Regions from separate parts of the Homo sapiens genome. Here region 1 is linked to region 2. The links come from fine-mapping of genetic effects on gene expression. A gene starts in region 2. The other region holds a variant in brackets. All regions are shown on one strand. Distances are between the middles of the regions.

Region 1 (8,000 bases), 61 kb after region 2:
CCTAAGTATCTCCTGAACCACTCAGGTTTAGCAACCTACCTTGAACAGGTCCCCACTCATTGAGACCAACATGATCCCACCTTGCCAAAAACCAAAAAATTGGTAGAGGGAGTAGATATGATACTCTCTTCATTGTAAGGGTCCTTATTTCCCATGAAATTACATTTGCACTTTTGACTACGTGCCCTCCACAGGCAAAGCAGCTTCAAGTTCTGTGGATCCTCTACTACTTTGGTAACCCAAGCTAATTAGAGTCAGTTCAGGGAGGTTTCCAGTATCCAGTCAGCTCATTGCCTTCCTCTAATTCCCACAAGACCCAGCAGGGAAACACTAATCAAAGCCTTCTCGACTACTCTGACTCCCTTCCAAGATCCTTCTATCACATGCACAGTGTTACTCCACTTAGTAGCACACTCAGCACTATGTCACCGTATTACGTGCTGGAGCCATGACGCTCCCCCATGGTCATGTTGGGTTCTAGAGTGGCAAGGACTTTACTTGGTTTGATTCCCCAATGCACCCCCAGTGCTGAGCACCGTGCCTGGGTGACAGCTTCTAGTGACTGTTAAAACAGCTTTAGAACAACTTACTGAAGGTAATGTATTTGATTCTTTGGGCATATTAAGAAACCAGGATTTAGGGAAGGAATTCGTTTAAAAAGGACTCACTGTATGTAGAATGTAAATTTGCATGATTAATTTATAAGACAGTTGGGTAGGATCTAGCAAAATAATAAATGAACATGCCCCTTGACTAAGCAACTTCACTTCTAGGAATTGATTTTACAGAGATATCAGGAGCACAGGTTCCTAAAGATACATCACTTATATTTGGATTCACTTAGGCATTGGTTACAATAATGCCTAATAAAGGGAGACAAGCAGGGAACTGGTTAATCACGGCCTACCCATGCTACCGAAATGCTCTGCTTGAAAAATATTTTTAAAATGCAGATGGAGGGCTGGGGGCAGTGACTCATGCCTGTAATCTCAGCACTTTAGGAGGCCAAGGAATGTGGATTACTTGAGCTCAGAAATTGAAGACCAGCCTGGGCAACATGGTGAAACCCCATCTCTACAAAAAAATATAAAACTTAGCCAGATATGGTGGGTCATGCCTGTAGTCCATGCTACTCAGGAGGCTAAGTTGGGAGGATCGCTTGAGTCCAGGAGGTCAAGACCAGTGAGCCATGATCCTGCCACTGCACTCCAGCTTGGGTGACGGAGTGAGACCATCTCAAAACAAACAAAAAAATCAGATGGCCATGCACTGGCATGGGAGGATATCTGATACATTAAGCAAAAAGGGTGAGTTCTAAAGATGCCATTTTTGTAAAAACTGAAAAGCTGAGTGTGAATATCTGACACTGTAATAAGACTAGAAGGTGAAACACAAACTCAACAGTGCTTAACTCCTGAAGGGGGTTGATGGGAGGCTTTCATTTTCTACTTCACTCACTTTTGCATTGCCAGATATTTTTACAATTTTGTATATTTTCTGTAAAGTGCGAGTTAGAGTCATGTAGGAACGGCATGGGAATGTGACGTCGGGGTAGAAGGCTCCTTTCTGCTGCCCAAACTGTTCAGACCCTGGTTCTCCTTTCCTAGCTTTTCATATATCTAATCTTTTACATTTCTGCCTTTAGCTACTATGAGGGTAAGTCAAGCTCTCCAAACTGATCAATGAAGAAAGGAATTACAACGTAAAATCCAGGCCTGCTTTTGGGAGAGAGGATGGAAGGGGCAGGATCTTTAAGGGAAGTCTAGCAACCAGCCCTCAGCCCAGAACTCATTTTTCAGTAAATCCTCCTACCCGCCTCTGCTAAGCTGGAAGGAGCGTGTGTTTTTCCTGGGCCCTAGCAGCCTCCAGGACATCTCGGATCTGGCTGCATTTCCTCCCGGCATTGGAGAGTGGCAGCATTTCCTACCAGCAGTGAGGATGGTGTTGCAGGAGGGGGGCTCCTTTCCTCCCCACCCGCCCCCCAACACCTCCTCGGCCTTCCCAGCAGTCCTCCTCCAGCGGAGGGAAGCCAGGGACTCCTGCTTCCCTCCAGCTAAAAACAGCAGGGAAGGGTTTTTTGCCCTACATTTTATTACCATTTAGAGCCCTTTATCTTTCATTCTAATGTTGATTAATAGTGTAAAAGGAAAAAAAATACTGAAGAGTTAAAAATGTAACCACAAACTCAATAAGAAATTCACAACAAAAAACTCTGGGATGCTACCTAGAGCAGTCAAATCCCCTCCCTCCCCCACTCCTATCCACACTCAGTGAACAGGGAGACTGGAAATCCCAGCCCTTCCACAAGACAAAACGCTTCCTTCCCCAGCACCCAGGCCCTCAGGGGACCAGAGGGAACTTTCTGGATCTGGCAGGCTCCAAAGGAGGATAGAACCCCAGAAGGGCAGGAGAGAGTCTCTCAGACCCAGGCCAACCCCAGCTTAGGGTTGTGGCGCAGGAGTGGGGAGTAGCCATTGCTGGGAGCTTAGAACTGCCTGGCCTTCAGAAGGGAATGGGAGTGAACCGCTGGGAGAAACCCCAGGAAAGAACTATGATGCTCATTTATTTAAAGATGCAAAGACGAGGCCAAACTGTAAACTTAAACCTAAAATTTGGGTTGGTTGATCTGTTTTCATGACAACACAAAAAAATGTAAAATATCTATTTAGTTTAAAAAATACTGATTACAGGGGCCGGGCGCTGTGGCTCACGCCTGTAATCCCAGCACTTTGGTAGGCCGGGGCTGGCGGATCACCTGATGTCGGGAGTTCAAGACCAGCCTGACCAACATGGAGAAACCCTGTCTCTACTAAATACAAAATTAGCTGGGTGTGGTGGCGCTTGCCTGTAATCTCAGCTACTTGGGAGCCTGAGGCAGGAGAATCGCTTGAACCTGGGAGGTGGAGGTTGCAGTAAGCCGAGATCGCGCCACTGCGCTCCAACCTGGGAAACAAGAATGAAACTCTGTATCAAAAAAAAAAAAAAAAAAAAAAGGATACTGATTACATGTTGAGATATTTTGGACATACTGGGTTACATTGTTATTAAAATTAATTTCATGTGTGTCTCTACTTTTTTCATGGGACTACTAGAAAATTTAAAATTACATACATGCCTTGCATTTGTGGATCATATTATATCACCAGTGGACAGTGCTGCTCTAGACCAATTGTTTAATGCTGTCAGAGGCATGTGAACCAGAGCAACTCCATCTTAAATAGGAGTTAGGTAAAAGTGAGGCTAAGACCTACTGGGCTGCATTCCCAGATGGTTAAGGCATTCTAAGTCACAGGATGAGATAGGAGGTCAGCACAAAATACAGGTCATAAAGACCTTGCTGATAAAACATTGCAGTAAAGAAGCCAGCCAAAACAGCAAACCCAAGACGGCCACAAGAATGACCTCTAATCGTCCTCACTGCTACACTCTCACCAGCGCCACAACAGTTTACAAATGCCATGGCAACATCAGGAAGTTACCCTATAACGTCTAAAAAGGGGAGGTATGAATAATCCACCCTTTGTTTAGCATATTATCAAGAAGTAACCATAAAAATGGGCAACCAGCAGCCCCCAAGGCTGCTCTATGGAGTAGCCATTCTTTTCCTTTACTTTCCTAATAAACTTGCTTTCATTTTACTCTGTGGGCTTGCCCTGAATTCTTTCTTGCA[C/G]AAGATCCAAGAACCCTCTCTTGGGGTCTGGATCGGTAATATTTTCCAGTAACAGCATTACCAGATATTTTCCCTGGCTTCTGACTAAGTAGGTTTCGGTTGAGACCCAGGAATTGCAGTTTAACAAGGGCCCCAGCTGACTCTTGTCATCAGGCAAGCTTGAGGGACTGGCGTAAGGCAGAAGAGTTCCTCACCTGGACCTGAGGATGAGCTTCAGTTACTCCTGGAACTGACTTTCTGAATTTATATGCAAAATTGCAAGCACGGGGCTCACTTTATCAAGTCTACAGTTTTCCTCAGATTTTCAAACGATGACATGGAAAATGCAAAGAAACATAGCTTACTAATTCAAGTCACATTGAAACCTCAACCATTCTTGTTCCTTTCTCCTTCTAATTTAAATTTGCTTAGCCTTTCGTTAAGATTTTATATGGTTTGGGTACATAAGTTAGGCCAAAACAAGCTTTCTTGGCTTCACACAAATGAGAAAGCAAAAATTCAACACTACACGTTCCATATGCACCTTCAATAGTAATGTATTCATACAGTGTTTCCTGGAATGGCCAGAAATACATAATCCATTCCTTTTTTATGCCCAGTAGTATTGGCACTCACAAATATACCCCATAGCATCAAGCAAAAACAATGCTGGATTGTAATGACTGTGACAACTGAAGTCCCCCAGTACACACATGGATTTCAGTTCCACGTCTTCCCACTTCAGCTTTTGGGCTTCTTATTCCTGGTGATAAAAGGTCGTATGACTCTAACCGCAGAGCCAGGGTGGGACTTTTAAGAGACAGGGTCTTGATCTGTCATCCAGGCTGGAGTACAGTGGCACAAATCACAGCTCACTGCAGCCTCGACCTCCCAGGCTCAAGCAATCCCCTCACCTCAGCCTCCTGAGTGGCTGGGACTACAGGTGTGTGCCACCATGCTGGGCTAATTTTTAAAACTTTTTTTTTTTTTTTTGTAGAGATAGGGTCTTAACTATGTTGCCCAGGCTGGTTGCAAACTACTGGGCTCTAGTGGTCCTCCCACCTTGCCCTCCCAAAATGCTGAGATTACAGGCCTGAGCAACTCCACCTGGTGGATTCTTTTTAATTGAAACGTAATGTGGTACGTTTCAAGGCAGTGGAATATACACAGGGAATTAAGAGGCAGCCTCGTGGTGTGAATTTAAAGGTAATATGAAAACCAAGGTGGCTTGCCAGTACGCTGGGCAGAGCGAAGCAAGCCTCGGAAGTGGTGCTTGTTGGTGTACCTGGGTAGCCTGGCAGTGCGGCTTCGTGAGCCATCAGTAAGGAGGTTATATTCTCCCTAAAATAAAAAGGCCAGCAGCGGTACTCTGTGATTAGAGTCCAATTGAGGAGCTGCAGGAGTCATCGGGCGAGAGCCCAGTCTCAATGAGGCTGTGAGTGGCTTCACAGCTGGCCAGGAAACCTTTCAGAGGAGCTGTAATCAGACCAAACCACAGGGAGTCACAGCCATGCAGCCACAAGGCCTAGAATTTCTTAGTAATTGCTGATTATATGGAATTAGTCACTAAGAGAATTGTCTGCATATGTGATGTCTCTCATCCTCACCTTCCATTTACTTTTAACCCGTCAGGCTCTGTCTCCACTGACGTGGATCACTGAGCTCACCAGTGAGCTCCAAGTTGTTGCATCCAGCGGTCTGGTCCCTTCTGTCCTTTTCTTACCTGCCCGCATCACCTGCAGGGCTGACAGCCTCTTTGCTCATGGCTTGCACAAGGCCTCCAGAGCCTGATTTCGTTCTGCTTCATTGGCTGCTCCCTTTCTATACTCCATGACAAAATACTGGGTGTTGTTTAGGACTTGGGCCTGGCCTGTATTTTATCTTATCCTTTTCTCTAATGGACTCCCTCCATTCCCTTTTCCTAAAAACTTCCACACTCTTAATCTTCTGGCCTTTCCTTGGATCTCTGGACTTGTCTGTTTGCGGCCTCTTAACTGGCATCTGCGATTTCACATGTCCAGAGGATTACTTCCCAGATGACCTCCAACAGCCACTCTCTCTCCTGTGTTGGCTAATGGCACCACCTTTCAGCCAGTCACTCATTGGGCTCAGATCTCTCTGCCTTCTTGCAAAGGCAGTTTAAGTTACTTGGAGTAAGCCTTAACTCCTCCTCCCCTCATCCTTGACATCTGTTCAACAGCAAACTCTATCTGCCAAGTCTCATCCTGCCATTGTCACCACACCCAGGTCCAAGTGGTCATCACTTCTCACCCGGACAACCACAACAGCCTGCTAACTGGTTTCTCTGTCTCCTCCCCTGCATCCCTCTGCCCTGGTTTTCACACAGCAGCCCAGGTAACATTTCACATGACAGATCTGATCATGTTACTGTCCTTCACTGCCTTTCACCTACACGTGGAATAAACCCTGTGGTCTTGCCTGGACCTCTAAGGCCCTGCTTGACCTGAGTGCTACTTGCTGGGCCTTTGGGCTGCTGGAATCACCCTTGCCCTGATGGAATCCTGTAGGTCCTCAACACAGCCCTGCACAGCCAGGGCCTCTTCCGGATATGATTCTGCCTCTCTCCTCCTCATCTCAGCTTCAGTGTCACCTCCCAGAGAGGCCTAGACTGACCACCCATCTAAACTCATGTCCCAGAGCTAAGACATCACCACGCCTTACCATTTCCTTCATATTATTCATTGCAAACTAAAGTTACTTTATTGGAAAAAAAATCTCCACAGTGACTGTATCACATCATCCCGTTTCCTTCATGGTAATCACCACAATGTTTACTTATTTTTTAGAAAATCCAGGCAGCAGATAACAGCTGTCTCTAAGTCCTTTATAAGGATAACATCATTTCATTCCCACATAACCTTGGAAGTCAGTACTATCATGATTCTCATTTTTAAGGATGAGGAACTTTTTTTTTTTTTTTTTTTTTTTTTTTTTTTTTTTTTTTTTGAGATGGAGTCTCACTCTTTCGCCCGGTCTGAAGTGCAGTGGTGCGATCTTGGGCTCAACACAACCTCCAACCCCTAGGGTTCAAGTGATTCTCCTGCCTCAGCCTCCTGAGTAGCTGGGATTATAGGCACCTGTCACCATGCCCAGCTCATTTTTGTATTTTTAGTAGGGACAGGGTTTCACCATGTTGGCCAGGCCAGTCTTGAATTCCTAATTTCAGGTGATCCACCTGCCTTGGCCTCCGAAAGTACTAGGATTACAGGCGTGAGCCACCGCGCCTGGCCTATAGATGAGGAACTTAAGATTAGTCCCTGCAGAACTGGGACTCCCACCTGGGATTCTGTCTGCAGAGCCTGTGCCCTTACGCATCTCACTGGGTAGTAGCCTGTGATTCACAAAGGGAATACAGTAGAGTGCAAGATAAACAAGACCTCTGCTTAACAGTGCAGCCCTGCAGAACTAAGGCTCAAGTGTCCCCAGATAATGAGGTTCTGCAGGTATGTCGGTGGCTGTGTTTTGCCAGGAGTAGCAGCACAAGGACAACAGCAGTCTAACTTTTTTTTGCCCAGACTTTGCTATGAACATGTTTCTTGTCCAGGAAATCCATCTGGAGTTTTCACAGGCCTTGCCAGTGGCTGCTGGGTGTTCCAGTGCCCTCTACCACTCTGCCTTTATGAGGTCCCAGGCAAGGCCTTCTTCTCTTTGAGCTTTGGGGATGCTGGAGGGATGGCAAAAAAGTAAAATAAATCTCAATTACTCAAGCAACAACCCCTCCATCCCTTGAGTGAGCCTCAGTCTTCACCCTCTGTGCTTCTAGGCACTTGGCTCTGGGGCTCAGCAGTTTATTTGCGTGCTAATGAAGCCACAGGCACACTTTGTATTCCATTAATGTCCTGCAGACCCATGTGCTTTTATGGAATTCTAAGCACAACTTCCATTGCTTGATTGCTTTTATACATCAACCAAATATGAAGAATCAGCAAGTTTAAATAAAACAGCACCTTTTACAATAATGGTCCTCCTCATGAACCAGTGAAGATTCTGCTGCTTATTTGTTCAGTGGGGGCTCCCTTTTAAAAAGCACCCCACCCACTTCCCTTTTCATTTTATCCCACTCTTTGTGTGGCTCAAAAACAGTATTCATCCACAGCTGCTGAAATAGGGGTCAACTAGGGTCATCCTTTTTCCATTCAGGGACAAATGTTGGTTCCTACAAGTCTGGAAGTTTTCTACAGTTGGGTGGATGGTGTATGAACTTGGACATGGATTTGAACTCTGAGGAGTCTCGCTGGCTTTTTCGAAGGCACTGGTAACAGTCAAGGGCTCTGTGGGCCACTGATGGGTAAAGAGTAGTCAGGGCCGGGCACAGTGGCTCATGCCCGTA
Region 2 (15,774 bases):
GAAGACCAGCCAGCACAGAGTTATGGGGCCAAACTTAGCTGATGAGTTTACCAGTGAGTGATTGGAGAGGTGCTTCTTTGTATTTCTTTGGGTTGGTTTGTTCATCATTGTTTTTAACAAAACAACTTCTTTTAAAGAATTCATTGTAAGAGGCGCTATAAGACAAACTCCTTTTTCCGGTTAAGATGCTTACAAGGTCATTAAGAAAATAAACACCAGCCTTGGCCAGCCATGGTGGCTCACGCCTGTAATCCCAGCACTTTGAGAAGCCGAGGTGGGTGGATCACCCTAGGTCAGGAGTTTGAGACCAGCCTAACCAATATGGTGAAACCCTATCTCTACTAAGAATACAAAAATCAGCCTGGCATGGTGGCATGTGCCTGTAGTCCCAGCTACTCAGGAGGCTGAGACAGGAGAATCACTTGAACCCAGGAGGAGGAGGTTGCAGTGAGCTGAGATCGCGCCACCACACTCCAGCCTGGGTGACAGTGAGACACCATCTCAAAAAAAAAAAAAAAGAAAAGAAAGAAAAGCCAGCCTTTAGGATACTTACTCAACAACAAAATTTATTCAAAGATTCAACATAATAATTAGTGTGTATTAATAACTTAGTTTTGAAATTTTAGTCAATGACAGGAAATTAATAAGCAGATTCTTAAGAACCGTTATAGAAATTGTATTTCTGATTTTTAAAGTTAAGATTTTTTTTTAAAGTTCAAAAATAATTTTACTTTTTCTAATTTGTTCCTCATGCAAAAGAAGGTTGTTAATCACTAGCTTAGAGCTTTTTTTGTTTTTTTTTTCGAGATGGAGTCTTGCTCTGTCACCCAGGCTAGAGTGCAGTGGCGCGATCTCGGCTCACTGCAACCTCTGACTCCCAAGTTCAGGCTATTCTCATGCCTCAGCCTCCTGAGTAGCTGAGATTACAGGCATGTGCCACCACGCCTGGCTAATTTTTATGTTTTTAGTAGAGTTGGGGTTTCACCATGTTGGTAAGGCTGGTCTCGAACTCCTGACCTCGTGATCTGCCTGCCTCGGCCTCCCAAAGTGCTGGGATTACAGGTGTGAGCCACCGTGCTCGGCCGCTTAGAACTTTTTTACTTGGGTCTGACAATTCCATTTGTCCCCTTTCAACTGCCTCCTCCCATTCTGGGCAAATACATCAGTGCATGGGAGTTAGACATGACAGGGAACAGGAAGGGGAGGGCAAAAGAAAAGAGGCATAGTCTAGAGTTCAAGAGTTGTTTTATGTGCAGTGTACATTTATACTTACTATGTTTATATTTCACATACATTTATATATTATTATACACTTATTATATTTATATTTGTTTTATATATCACATATATTTGTTTAACATATACACATAGAGCAAGCGAGCTCTGTATTAGGACTCTGGTGAAAGTAACAAAAACCTAACTGAGCTAGAATGAGTTCATCTTTTCCGACATGTTAGGAAGATGAGATTCACTCTTAGAAAGCAGAGATTCACTCTGATTTCATTTTATTTTGAGCCACGGTCTTGCTTTGTTGTCCAGGCTGGAGTACAGTGTCACTATCATGGCCCCCTGCATCCTTGACCTCCCAGGCTCAAGCAGTCCTCTCTCCTCAGCCTTTCAAGTAGCTGGGACCACAGGCGCCACCATGCCTAGCTAATCTTTTTGGGTTTTTGTAGAGATGGGGTCTCCCTATGTTGCTCGGGCTGGTCTCGAACTCATAGTTACAAGCAATCCCCCTGCCTCGTCCTCTCAAAGAGCAGGGATAACAGGCGTGAGCCACCACGTCTGGCCTCTTTCTGTTTTTTAAAAAGTAATTCTCTCTTACTCATTTTGAGATTTTGCGTCTCATCACCTCCTTCCTAGTCACCTCAGCACATATTTGGTGATAACTCATTCATTTTCCTATTCTTTGGTTAACAAATGTTTATAGAGGTCATAGATATGACTGAGGTATTCTAAGCACTGGGGAATTAGTGGATAAATTAGAAAAGATCCCTGCTTTTTTGTAACATATAGTATAATGGGGGAGAGGCATTGAAAATGTTTCAAATTGAAGAAGCATAGTATGAAGGAAACAAAGACATGTGATAGGTAATGACAGTAGAAACTATTTATTTATTTATTTATTTATTTATTTAGAGACTGAGTCTCATTCTGTCACCCAGGCTGGAGTGCGGTGATGCAATCTCAGCTCAGTGCAACCTGTGCCTCCTGGGTTCCAGTGAGTCTCCTGCCTCAGCCTCCCGAGTATCTGGGACTATACGCACGTGCCACCACACCCGGCTAATTTTTTTTTTTTTTTTAGTAGAGACAGGGTTTCACCATGTTGGCCATGAACTCCTGACCTCAGGTGATCCACCTGCCTCGGCCTCCTGAAGTGCTGGCATTACATGTGTGAGCCACCACACCCAGTCGAGACTATTTAAATAGAGCGGCCAGGGAAGGTTTTTTGAAGAGGTGACATTTAACCCATACATAAAGGTGAAAAGGAGGGGATCATGGAAGGTAGGTGCAACATTCCAGGCAGTGGGAATGGTATTTGGAAAGAGCTTGGGGTATTTGACGAATTTCAAAAAGACTAATATGGCTAGAGTGTAGCAGAGACAGATGAAGATGGGACATAGGATGAAGCTAAAGTGACATTTAGTGCTCCGTCGTGTAAGTTCTCTTAGATAGCAAACTAGAGTTTACTCTGAGGGTCATGAAAAATTTTAAGCAGGAGAGTGATGTGATTAAATTTATGTCATTTTTTCCTTTATTTTTGTAGAGACAGGGTCTTATAAAGATAAGGCCTTGCTATGTTGCTCAGGCCAGACTGGGCTCAAGGGACTTCCTGAGTAGCTGGGACTAGAGGCACATGCCACCATGCCCATCATTCAAATTTGGGTTTTAAGATGATCACAGGCCAGCTGCAGTGGTTCGTGTCTGTAATCCCAGCACTTTGGGAGGCCAAGGCAGGAGGATTACTTGAGCCCAGGAGTTTGAGACAAGTCTAGGCAACATAGTAAGACTGTCTCTACAAAAAATATGAAAATTAGGATGGGCATGGTGGCTCATGCCTGTAATCCCAGCACTTTGGGAGGCCAAGGTGGGCAGATCACCAGAGGTCAGGAGTTCAAGATGAGCCTGGCTAACATGGTGAAAACCCATTTCTGCTAAAAATATAAATTATTAATTTTAATACAGATTAAAATTAGCTGGGCGTGGTGGTGCATGCCTGTAATCCCAGCTACTTGGGAGGCTGAAACAGGAGAACTGCTTGAACTCGGGAGGCGGAGGTTACAGTGAGCGGAGATCAGGCCATTGCACTCCAGCTTGGGCGACAAGAAAGAAGCTCCATCTCAAAACAAAACAAATAAACAAACAAAAACAAAAATTAGCAAGGCATGGTGGCACATGCCTGTAGTCCAAACTACTTGAGAGGCTGAGGCAGGAGGATCACTTGAGCTCAAGGGTGTGAGGCTGCTGTGAGCTATGATCACACCACTGCACTTTAGCCTGGGCAAGAGAGTGGGAACTTGACTCTAAAAAAATTACAATAAATAAATAAATAAAAGATTATTACTCTTTTTTGCTCAGGCTGGAGTTCAGTGATGCAATCATAGCTCACTGTAACCTTGAACTCCTGGGCTCAAGGGATCCTCCTGCCTCAGCCTCTGGAGTAGCTGGGAGTATGAGTGTACACCACTATGCATGGGTTTTTTTTTGTTTTTTCCTTTTTACTTTTGTAGATACGGGATCTTACTATATTGCTCAGGCTGGTTTCTAACTCCTTCCTGTCCAGGAGCGATCCCCCAACCTCAGCTTCCTTAAATGTAGGGATTATAGGAGTAAGCCACCATCCCCAGCCTGATCACTCTTGCTGCTCTGTGGAGGACAGATTAAAATGGAGCATGGGTGCAAGACAGGAGACCAGTTAGAAGCCAGTTGAAGTAGTCTAAGTGAGAAGTGCTGTGGCCTGGACTAAGGTGGGGAAAGTTAAGGTGGAGGAAATGGGGATGGATCTTAGATATGTTTTGGTGGTAGACTAGTTAGGAATTGCTGATGTATTGGGCATAGTGATATATGAGAAAAACAGGAATCAAGATTCACTCTTAGGTTTTCTGATTTGAGCTACTGGATGGATAGAGGAACATATAAATTAAAATGATTTAGGCTCAAATAACAGCTTCGGCTTAAGAAATATTTGGTTCATGTAAGTTCAGAGGTAGGATAGGCTTTGGGTTTCACTTAGTTCTTGAGGATTCCAGCTCCTGGTTAAAAACCTACGTGTGGTTTTTCAGGTCTGTCTGATTGCAGGTGATTACAAAGCCTCTACCTGGCAGCCCTCATGGAGGAAAGCTGCTCTCCCTTCCACAGACTTGGTGCACAGCTAGTGTGCTGCAGGCTCTGATACAGTCACGGGTCACATAACAGCATTTCAACCAACAACATATTCGAAGGTGTTGGTTCCATAAGATTATTATACCATATTTTGACTGTGCCTTTTTTGTGTTTAGATATTTTTAGATCTATAAAGCCTTACCATTGTATTACAATTGCCTATAGTATTCAGTATAGTAACATACTGTACAAGTTTGTAGCCTGGGAGCAATAGGCTGTACTATATAGCCTAGGTAGGTTATGCCATCTATGTTTGTACCAGTATACTCTATAATGTTCACACAATGACAAAATCGCCCAACAATGCATTTCTCAGAATGTATCCTGTTCTGAAGCAACTCATGACTGTAAATATTTGCATTCCTATCCCTGGTGCCTCCTTCATTCCTAGGTTTCTTTATCTGAGGCCTTGTGCAGAGGATTTTTTTTTTTTTCTTTTGAGAGAGGGTCTGGCTCTGTCACCCAGGCTGTAGTACAGTGGTACAATCTCAGCTCACTGCAGCCTTGGCTTCCCGGGCTCAAGCACTCCTTCCACCTCAGCCTCCTGAATAGCTGGGACTACAGGTGGATGCCACCATGCCAGGCTAATTTTTCTGTAGTTTTTGTAGAGACAAGGTTTTGCCATGTTGCCTAGGCTGGTCTCGAACTCAGTAGCTCAAGCAAACTGCCAGCCTTGGCCTCCCAAAGTGTTGGGATTACAGGCGTGAGCCACTGTGCCTGGCTGGGGAGAGGGTTCTTTAGGCTTCTCTGCTGAGGCCTCCTTATGGGGAGGGGAGGGGAAACCTTGACATTCTTTTCCAGGTTGCCTAGGTACTCAGTACTTTTCCACTCTTAGCCTTTCCCCCTTGCCTTCCCCTACTCCACCTCAGAGTCCATAAAACTGCTGGAGCTTTTTCTTCAGGGATCCCTTAACAGTGATATGACTCCATGACCCCCTACATCCGTGCTGACTCATGTGACCTGCAGCTAGTGCGCAGTTCCATGGGGGAAATGGAACAGAAACTGTGGGTACTTTCTCTGTTTCTTGTTTGTATCATTGCAGTAAACGCTACTCTCATTTTTGGCTCGTTGGTCTAATTGGCTACTCTGATACCTGTTAGCTCAGCTAGTGCTCTCTGTCTCTCTCCCAGCCCGTTTCCTGACAATTCTGGGTCCATTTTCCTACAGATCTTTCAGCTTTGCCCCATTCCACACATTAGCTTCAACCTCAAAGTGATAGTGAGTAGTAGTATATCAGTCACTGAGTACTGGCTGTAGAAGTTCCAGACATCATATCCTGACCTGATGACATCCAATGAAAGAAGAGAGACTTTTTCATCACGAAGTTTTAAGCAAGAGTTCTATGGTATACACTGACTGGACTATGTAGGTATGTACCTGTCCAGAGAATGGGTACATTTCCAGGGAATGGAGTGTGGTGTTTGATTTACCAACCAGATTTTGGCCTTTGAGCCAAAAGTGTTTCTGGCTTCCCCAGAGTCACATGTGCTGTGTGAGGGAAGCTAAGGGATACATGTCTTAATCAGGGTTCTGTTAGGAAAGAGTAAGGGGTGAATTCAGGGCCTGCTATTAATACATAATTTGCAGAGCCTGTTCCTCTCATGAAAATATAGAGCTCCTTATTCAAAAGGCAGGAAAAAAGTGTCACTAAAGGTGCTAGAAAGCCAGGCGAGGTGGCATACACTTATAGTATCAGTTACGCAGGAGGATTGCTGAGCCCAGGAGTTTAAGTCTGGCCTGGGCAACAAACTGAGACCTCATCTCTTAACTACAACAACAACAAAAATACTAGAATATAAAGGCTTTTTCTTTCTTTCACAGTTTCTCTCTTCACTTATGGTGTTTTTGATATTTAATGTCATTCTAAATAAAGATTAAAATTAAAATTAAGTAAAATTAAATTCATTCTAAGTAAAATTAAAATCATTACAAAGACTTTTTACCATCTTTATATTATGCAATGCTGGCTTTTTTTTTTTTTTTTCTTTTTTATTTTTTTTTTTGAGATGGAGTCTCGCTATGTCGCCAGGCTGAAGTGCAGAGATGCTATCTCAGCTCACTGCAATCTTTCCTCCCGGATTCAAGTGATTCTCCTGCCTCAGCCTCCCGAGTAGCTGAGATTACAGGCATGCACCACCACACCCAGCTAATTTTTGTATTTTTAGTAGAGACAGGGTTTCACCATATTGGCCAGGATGGTCTCGATTTCCTGACCTCATGATCTGCCCACCTCAGCCTCCCAAAGTGCTGGGATTACAGGTGTGAGCCACTGCGCCCAACCACAATTTTGGTTTTAAATGCAAATATAAGAACATTTAACTTGTACGTGGAATCACTGAAATTACATAATTCTTATTTCATACTTTGTACATGTATGATATATTTCATTGTTACCAGAACAGTCAAAATGCTGTACGAAAGTCAACTGTTTTTACGTCACTTCTTGATATGCACATACATATTCTACCACACTCTCTACCTTCTTATTGATGAGGAAAAAACTAAAAAGAAAAGGAAAAGATGGGTTGCTCGATCTTCCCCTTTCCTTCTATGTCATCATTTTCAGCATAAGGGGTTGGCTAAATCAGGAAAGCAATAGGAAAGGATATGATAGAGTTTCTTGGTTCTTTGTGTTTTTAGACTGCCATTGTCTTCTTGCATTAGAACAAGTTCTGATACACAGGAAGCTTGACCTCCTAGGGCTGACAGCGACCCCACCTACTCAGTTCCTATGTGCCTATGTTGTTCTTACTCTGAATCTTGCTGAACTTTCATGCATTGTGAGTTCAGTGAAATTCTATTTAAATAGGACAATGCAAATGCTATATGCAAATGGCATGGCAAAGAGTGAGTGGACATGCATATTGCACGTCTCGGCTCTGCTCATGCTCTATTGTCCCTCCAATTTTACTTACAAAACACAAGTTCAAAAACAAAATTGAGAATTTCAAGATGGTAACAGCAGAGCATTAAACCAAACATGGGGCCTTTCTGAGTGTAGGGTTCTGTGCAACTATACGGTTTATACATACACACACATGCAGCTGGCCCTGGGTAAATGAGTGCTGGGCATGCAAACAAGAATGACCACTACAACCTGCATTTACTGATTATGGAAAAGGGTTTGTGTGTAAAGAGAAAAAAAACCCAACAACAAAAAAACAAGATACTTTATGCAGCAAAAGTTTATTTTTTGCTCATGCAGAATCTGGAGCAAATGCTCCAGGGTAGCTCTCCTCCAAGCAGTACACTCAAGGGTCTGTGCTTTTTCCAGTGTGACTCCACTATCTAAAGAGTTCTTTGCTTTCAGCTGGGAAGAGAAAAGGGAGAAATAAAAATTATGTGAAAATTACATAGAGCATTTCAGGAGCTGTGCTTTGAAGTTGGGTATATCACGTTTATCTTCATTCCACTGGCCAGAACTCAATTGCGTTTTTCCATCTAAATGCAAGGAGGCCTGTGAATCCAGGAAGAGGAAACGGGATTGGTGAGTGACATGGTTTGGCTGTGTCCCCACCCAAATCTCATCTTGAATTGTAGCTTCCATAATTCCCATGTGTCATGGGAGGCACCTGGTGGGAGGTAATTGAATAATGGGGGTGGGTCTTTCCTGTGCTGTTCTCATGACAGTGAATAAATCTCACAAGACCTGATGGTTTTATATAGGGGAGTTCCCCTGCACATGCTCGTTTTGCCTGCTGCCATGTAAAATATGACTTTGCTCTTCCTTTGCCTTCTGCCATGATGTGAGGCCTCCCCAGCCATGTGGAACTGAGTCAATTAAACCTCTTTCCTTTATAAATTACCCAGTCTCGGGTATGTCTTTATTAGGAGTGTGAGAACGGACTAATACAGTCAGCATCTAGTAAGACTGCCATAGAGATCAAGGGAGATTTTTGTTTCTTGGTAGATGTTACTAAAACATATTATATGCTGTGGGAGATATTATACTAGAAAGAGTGTGGGACTAACAGAAGGGGCAATTATGTATTACTCTATAAACATTGAGTTGAACCATAAGAACTTTGTAGGGATGTGAAGAAGCTTTGACAGACTTAATTTAACCTCACTCTATTTAATTATTTATTTATTTTTATTTTTATTTTTTTTGAGTCAGAGTCTCGCTCTGTCGCCCAGGCTGGAATGCAGTGGTGTGATCTCTGCTCACTGCAAGCTCCGCCTCCTGGGTTCACGCCATTCTCCTGCCTCAGCCTCCCAAGTACCTGGGACCAAAGGCGTCTGCCACCACACCTGGCTAAGTTTTTGTATTTTCAGTAGAGACAGGGTTTCACCGTGTTAGCCAAGATGGTCTCGATCTCCCGACCTCATGATCCACCCGCCCTGGCCTCCCAAAGTGCTGGGATTACAGGCGACCTCACTCAATTTAAAAGGCCAATAAGCAAGTTAAATATTTTTTAGGATTCAGTGACAGCTTATTTTGTTGTGAGATTATTATATTTGAATATTATAGTATAATATGCTGTACAGGCATAAACAATAGTTTTTGTGTCATTCTCCCTAAGGCAGAATTCCTGCTATGAGTTTAGAACTGAATGCTAGTCCTGACTCAATTATATACTGTTGCTTAATCATTAATCTTTGAGTCATTTAATCTTTATAAGCCTCATTAATCTTTGTCTATTTCATGTAGTAATAAAGACTAAATGAGGCCAGGCACGGTGGCTCATGCCTGTAATCCCAGTGCTTTGGGAAGTTGAGGAAGGAGGATTGCTTGAGGCCAGGAGTTTAGGACTAACATAGGCAACCTAGTGAGACCCCTGTCTCTACAAAGTTTTTAAAAAAATAATTAGCCAGGCCTGGTGGTGCGCACTTGTATTCCTAGCTACTTGGGAGGGTGAGGTGGGAGACTGAGCCCAGGAGTGAGCTATGCCACTGCACTCCAGCCTGGGCAACAGAGTGGGATCTTGTTCCAAAAAAAAGACTAAATGAAATAGCATATTTTAAAACTATAAAGGTTTTAATCAACCTAATTATTTAAAAATCAAATCAGTATTATAATTTAAGAACCCTAGCATCTCCTGTTCTCCTGTTACCTCAACTCTAAGCTCCCCTTTGTCATTCTCAGCTGGGTCCTGTGAACAATTAGATGGAATTGAGGCCTTGGTGTCCCTATTCACTTTAACAGGGATGGCACTAGGTTCAAGAGGCTGAAGAAGAGACCCAGAGCCAGCAAATGAGGCATATGGTTTATTGAGAGGAACTTGCATACAGAGCGGTCCACTAGAGGTGAGCTGGACATGAGAACAACATCACCTGCAGAAAGCATGCAGTTTATATAGCATTTTCATTTTGCACCCTCTCCCTAACAGCTTCCACCTGACAACTTTCATTTAGCCCAAAACAAAGGGCCTAGCCCTCCTGTGCAGCCTGCATTCCACAGGGCTCAGATGTTCCTCATAGATAAGGAATGAATCTTGGTTGTAACTGCAAACTCATTCAGGTTGTCTGCCACACAGGGTCATTCCCCTGGGTCTGCTTACGTTACTGCTGTCAGGTGCCTCTACCATACAGTTGGCTTCTTTGGAAGTCATGGCTTGGGGGGCTGCTATAAGGGTTGCACTAGTCCAGCTCCTGGAAATCTGTGTGTGAGGAGGCAGTGGAGGGATGGGGCATGGGCAAGATAATATCTTGGACCACAGACATCTCAGAAACTCTTAATAAGGCAGATTGGTTTAACACCATGTGAGAGTTTGGGGACTTCCTGGCCTCTAAGAGCCCAAAAGGGGTTGTATAGCTGCCCCTAAACTGGGAGACTAGAAAGCTAGTAAGAAGAATTCCTCCAGGTGCTTCAGCAAGTGCTTGGTAACCTGCTTGTTTCTATTAATATACCATTGGCCCATGTGGGTGAGCACCACTTTGCCTTGAACTGTTGTTCCACTGCCATCATTTAGAATACTCTAAAAACTAGACTTGAGCTCTAAGTGAGACAACTAAGAAAACCACTATGGTGCCTCCCAGTCAGAGAAAAGACATTCAGTCAGAACAGGTAGAATGCACACCCAGCAAAATAGAACTGAAGGGGCTCACTCTTACCTTTACCAATCCATCCACTACACTGGCTGGAGGTCCAACTGCTAGTATCTGCATTTCTTTGCCGTAGGACTTTTTCTGGCCACCAGAGCCCATCTTGCTGCCCATGTAGCAGGCTAGAGTGCAGACCCCAGGAGCTGCCTTCAACCAATGAAGGAAGTTGGTATATAAATCCCCATCTCCCTCACCCCTTGAGTGGGATAACTCTGAGGTATATGTTTTATACTGGCCACCAGAGTTCTCCAGTGACAGTAAGCTCCAGTTAACCACAGTGCTAATTTCCTTGATAATAAACCTTTTGGCTTTCCTCCCCTCCTTGACTCACTTTCCTGCTCTCCTACCAATGTTTCCCAAGATCACCTCCCTCACAGGCTATCTGCACTCAAAATCTTGTCTCAGTGCCTGCTTCTTAGGAAATCTAAAATAAGACTTGGACTGTGCTGGGAGTACTGAATAAAGCAAATGGAATACTGCAGCCTGTGCTTCTGTACTGGACTCCCAGAATACATGAAGCTGTGCCTGGAAGCATTTTCTCTTTAGGGAATTTCATCAGCAGAAAGAATTACGTACAGATACTGATACCATGTGTTTCCAACCAACAGCTCAGCCAGATCATCCTACAGTGAAGCTCTCAGGAAACAAGTACCATCTACAAGGTGAGAGCTTCCAATTAGCTTTCAAGGCACTTGACTCCAGGTTAAGGCCTTACTCTTAAGTGTGAGTGAATAGTCAAGGACTACAGAGGCTTCTAATAGGATAGATGAGATCAAGATAATAGCAAAAAGCAGCTGAGAGGAATAAGACTACTCAGGGAGAAGAAAACGTCAAAATCTATTATTAATATCCTCAGAAGGATAAAATAAAATATACAAAGCAAGAATGTGACACCACAAGAAAGGGGCATTTGAAGAACAAAACAGAACTCTAAATAAGTAAAAACTCTGTAGTTGTCAGGAAGATAAATTTGAGGAATTCTCCAAGAAAGAGGGGAAAAAAAAGATGGAAAACGGGAGCAAAATAGATGGTGACGGGCCTCTTATGCCAAAGGAACTTGGGCTTGATCATACAGCAGAAACTGAAAAGATAACTTGTTCCTATCTGAGTAAAACAAAACAAAATGTAGGCAGTTGCACAGGCCAAGAATGGAGGCAGAGTCAGTGGTTAGGCAGCTCTCACTGTAGTATGGAGAAATGATGCAAAACTGAAGTACACAGTGGCATGTGACAAATTTAGACAAAAGATGGGAGATTAAATGGTAGAACAGACTAAACTTGTGACGGAGCAGGTGTGTGTGGGCCTGTGGGTCTGATGTAAGAGGAAAAAGAACAGATGGATCTAGTTTCTCCAAAGATCCCAAATGGATTGGTCTCCATTAAGCAAGACGAGGAATGAATAAGGACGAGCAGGTGGGGATTGCTTTGTGCAGAGGGTGGAATACAGATCAGAGTTCAGCTTAAATCAGTATTTTCTAAGATTTTGCTAGGTGCCAGATACTGAGATAAAGTCCTTGTCTTCATGTTTGGAACCAGGTGCCTAAGGAAGCACAGAGGAGAGCCACCTCCAAAATGGATACCCTCTCCAAGGGTTTGTAGTGAAAGAGGCACAGCTCTTGGCCTGGAGTTGGTGGGGGCTGCGATAAGTGCAAGATACTTGGTGACAGGAATCGCGAGCATACTCTTGTGTTGTACGGATTCTCAGGGTCGGCCCTGCAGAGGAAAGAGCTCAGTCACCGCGAGGTCCTGCACAACATGCCAAAGTCCCGGATATGTGTCCGGGGTCTACACCTAAGCCCCGACCCCTCTGAACTTCCCAGAAGCGCGCAGGAGGCATGGTGCGCATGCGTGTAGCCACCTCAAAGGCGGCGGGAAGTTGGTTTTCTGAGTAGCAACTGAGCAGCTTGAAGACGGATTGGAAGTAGCAGACCAATAAACAAACGTCTCATTGGCTTAGAGTGCTTAGAGTCCCAATTCTTCAGCTTCCCATTGGGCCTTTCAAGCGAGCAGGGGCGTGACTCCGGGGGCTCCGCCCCGAGCCTTGGCCCAGTCTTGGGGTCCAAGGCTGAGGGAGCGGGACGGAAGTGAGCGGGTCCCGCCCCTTCCCCTTCTCGTCTCCGTTGGAGTCGTCTCTGCCGCGGCTTCCTCGGCTGCCAGCTCTCCGGCGAGCCGGAGTCCTAGTGCCGTACCGTCAGTCCCCGGCCGCGCGGAGCCGGGATGCACTGTTCCTGCTGTGGGTCCTCATCATGGAGACCAAACGGGTGGAGATTCCCGGCAGCGTCCTGGACGATCTCTGCAGGTACCGCGCTACCCGACCCCCTTTCGCCCCCGTCGGGTTTTCTCAGTTTCGCGGACCCCCAGAGGCCTCTGGGTCTTCTTCCCCGCCCACGTCCATGTCCTCGCTTTCCGCTCCCGCCGCTGCTCGCTTTCCATCGTCGACCCTGCTCTCCGACGACACCGCCCCTCTTTCCGCCGCAGCCTCCCTGTTTCTCAAGGCCCTCCGTCCTTCCCCGCAGAACACCCGGAATTTCCTCATTTTTTAAGTTACTCAACTATTTTGCTTTCCCGCAGGCGTAGCCGCTTCGCCGGAGCCTGGGTCTTAGCGTTTTGCCGCCGCCGCCGCCTCCCTCTCCCATTGTTTTTTCTGCCTCTGTGACTTTTCCACGCCGTGCACCCCCTCCTCCCTGTGTCTCATTCCCCGATTCTGAAGGAAGACCCCCAGGGTAGTAATTTAAGGCTTAGGATCCCAGGTACGCGGACCTGCGCAAGGAGCAAATTTTCGGACTTATTCTGACGCCTGCGTGTTATTTGTCCGTGGCGTTCTCTGTAAATTCCTGTAAGGAATTACTTTTTTTTTCTCATCCCTGGACTTGTCTTTGGGGGAGAGAGGGAAAAAGTGTAGCGCTGCTTTTCTTTTTATCCTTAATAATCCTATTTTAAAGGAAATTCTCAACCGCGGGGTTTTAACTCAGGGTGTATACTTCAGATGAGAAATTTTCTGCATTCTTCCCCCTTGTCAACTCTGATTTCAGATAGCCAAACACGTGTAGGATACTTAAAAATGCTTATTTTCCGAAGGTAAAATTTGGAGTGCAGTGATACCCGGAGTTGTCGCCAAGTGTGTGTGGATTGTGATTACAAGTGATAACACCTTTTCGTTCACAGTTACTGTGTTTATGTTTTAAAAGGCAGGCTTTTAGTAGTTGTATCTCCTTCATGCAGTTTTTTTTAATGGAAAGTAAAGAACTGGTGTTTGTGGAGTTTTTTGGGGTTTTTTTTGTTTGTTTGTTTTTTTGTTTTTATTTTTTGAGACGGAGCCTCTTTCTTTTGCCCAGGCTGGTGTGCAGTGGTGCGGTCTTGGCTCACTGCAACCTCTGCCTTCCGGATTCAAACGAGTCTCTGCCTCAGCCTCCCTAGCAGCTGGGATTACAGGCACCCGCCACCACACCCGGCTAATTTTTGTATTTTTAGTAGAGACGGGATTTCACCATCTTGGCCGTGCTGGTCTCGAACTTCTGACCTCGTGATCCACCCGCCTCGGCCTCCCAAAGTGCTGGGATTACAGGCGTGAGCCATCGCGCCCGGCCTGGAGTTTCTACTGTGCACCAGGCACTACCTTTACATGTATTGTTTTATTTAATCCTCAGTCAGCCGTGTTTGGTAGGTGCAGTTAGTATATTTCCATTTTCATCTGCGCAAACAGATTCAGGAACTTTGTAATTTACATAAGGTCACATTCATCCTAATTCACAAAATCAAGATTTCACACCTATTCCTTTTTCTTTCCAGTGCCTGTGCTTTTTCTCTCATACCAAGGAGAAGTAATAAGCCTAACGTTTTAAACCTCACAAAAGTACATACAGAAAAGTAAATAGCCTAATTTTGCAACTAATACAAATGGCGCTGTACTTCTTTGGTGATGGTAGATTTATAATTTTTGAAGTATGGTAGATTCAAATGAACCACTGAAAAGGCATTTAGTTTCTTGTCCCAAATAAAAAAAAAAAAAGGAAAAAGAAACTGAATTTGATATGTGTATGTGGGTTAATGACTAGACGCACATCAACCAATAGTGGGATTATGAGATTGTGATCTTTATTTTTTGTTTCCAATATTTTTTATGCATTTTATAGTTAGAAAAAAATTGAAGATAAGTATTTAGAAAGGTGATCAGTAATTAGCTGTGTGTTAATAGGGTTAAGAGTTGATTTAGAAAAAGATGTGGTAATCTTAAACATTTTACAGACATCAGAGCTAGTCTTCCTTCTAGTATTGGGGTTAATTTGCATATTATCTAGGATTACATCATTTAAATAAGTGATGTCAGCTGTTAACGATTTTATGTATGGAACCTATTCACAAAATAATTACGTTGTATTTTGTAAACAATATGTTAAGCACCTGTCAAGTGTTAAAGATAGTTGGTTTTCCAGTGAGTGTATTTAAGCTGTTAAACAAATATTTTTGAATGGAGTAACATTTTTTTCCTTTCAAGAAATTTCTTTTTGCAGTTACTGTTTTTGGCTGTATAAATAAGGATATGATATATTTAAAAATTAGGGCTGGCTGTAATAATGAAACCAAATAAACATTTCTCAAAACTTCAGATTTTAAAATAAATGCCATTTTCAAGTTAATATTTATAGCTTTGATTAATTGAAATATTTTTAATGTTACAGATTCAAGCTTTTCATTGTAGACTAAAACTTTTTTTTTACACTTAGAATTTGGTAAACTTCTGTAAAAATAAAGCTTAATTTGAGGTTAATTTTTCTGAACTTCTTTGCTCTCTTTTATGTACGTCTTGATTTATGAATTCAAGCTAGGTGCTTGTTTTTACTCCCTTCATTTTTTGCCCCAATTCTGTTGCTTATTATTAGTGTATATAGGAAGTTTTCTTTTGTGTTACTTTGTTTTTTGATAAATTACATGTTTCTGTTAAATCTTGCCTTTTGATGTGGAGAGCAGCAGACTTAAATTTTCAAAATGTGACTTTGTAACCTTTAGACTGCTCATAACCTAAGGCTGATGCTTTAGTATGTAACATTCTATTTATTGGAATATTGTGCAGCCATTCTAAGTTCCTCAGGCAATTAGCACACAGTAAACTGAGGGAAAATATTTGTGTGTTGAAAAGATGTACACAGTATACTGAGTGAAATACTTATTTAGTCCCTTGGTGCCTTTTGTGAAAACAAATTTTTAAGTGTGTGTGTGGGTGGGGAAGGGGTATATGTATTCGTATGCCGAAAGAATATGCGCCAAACTGATAACACTGGTTACTTTCTGAGTGGAGTAGAATTAGAGGAGAGGAAGGGAAGAGTTTGGTCTTAAAATATTCTAGTGA

The links. PIP is the estimated chance that this variant, and not a neighbour inherited with it, causes the effect.
Region 1: its variant is fine-mapped to the expression of DCP2 in whole blood (INTERVAL, PIP above 0.99).

The regions. Positions count from the first base shown.
Region 1 is chr5:113,029,438-113,037,437 of GRCh38, forward strand. The region is part of intron 17 of MCC (MCC regulator of Wnt signaling pathway); the gene reads right to left. Among named protein-coding and RNA genes, the nearest start is that of DCP2, 57 kb to the left of the region's middle. RefSeq lists an enhancer at 4,836-5,394. The variant C/G (reference allele first, on the strand shown) is at 3,671.
Region 2 is chr5:112,964,261-112,980,034 of GRCh38, forward strand. It overlaps DCP2 (decapping mRNA 2), which reads left to right and starts at 12,538. Exons shown (of 11, transcript NM_152624.6): 1 at 12,538-12,726. The coding sequence starts at 12,674. LOC105379126 (a long non-coding RNA gene) reads right to left here and starts at 10,525. Exons shown (of 2, transcript XR_948679.3): 1 at 10,438-10,525; 2 at 7,551-7,693. RefSeq lists enhancers at 12,029-12,078, 12,109-12,188, 12,204-12,963, 12,499-12,548, 12,619-12,708 and 3 more.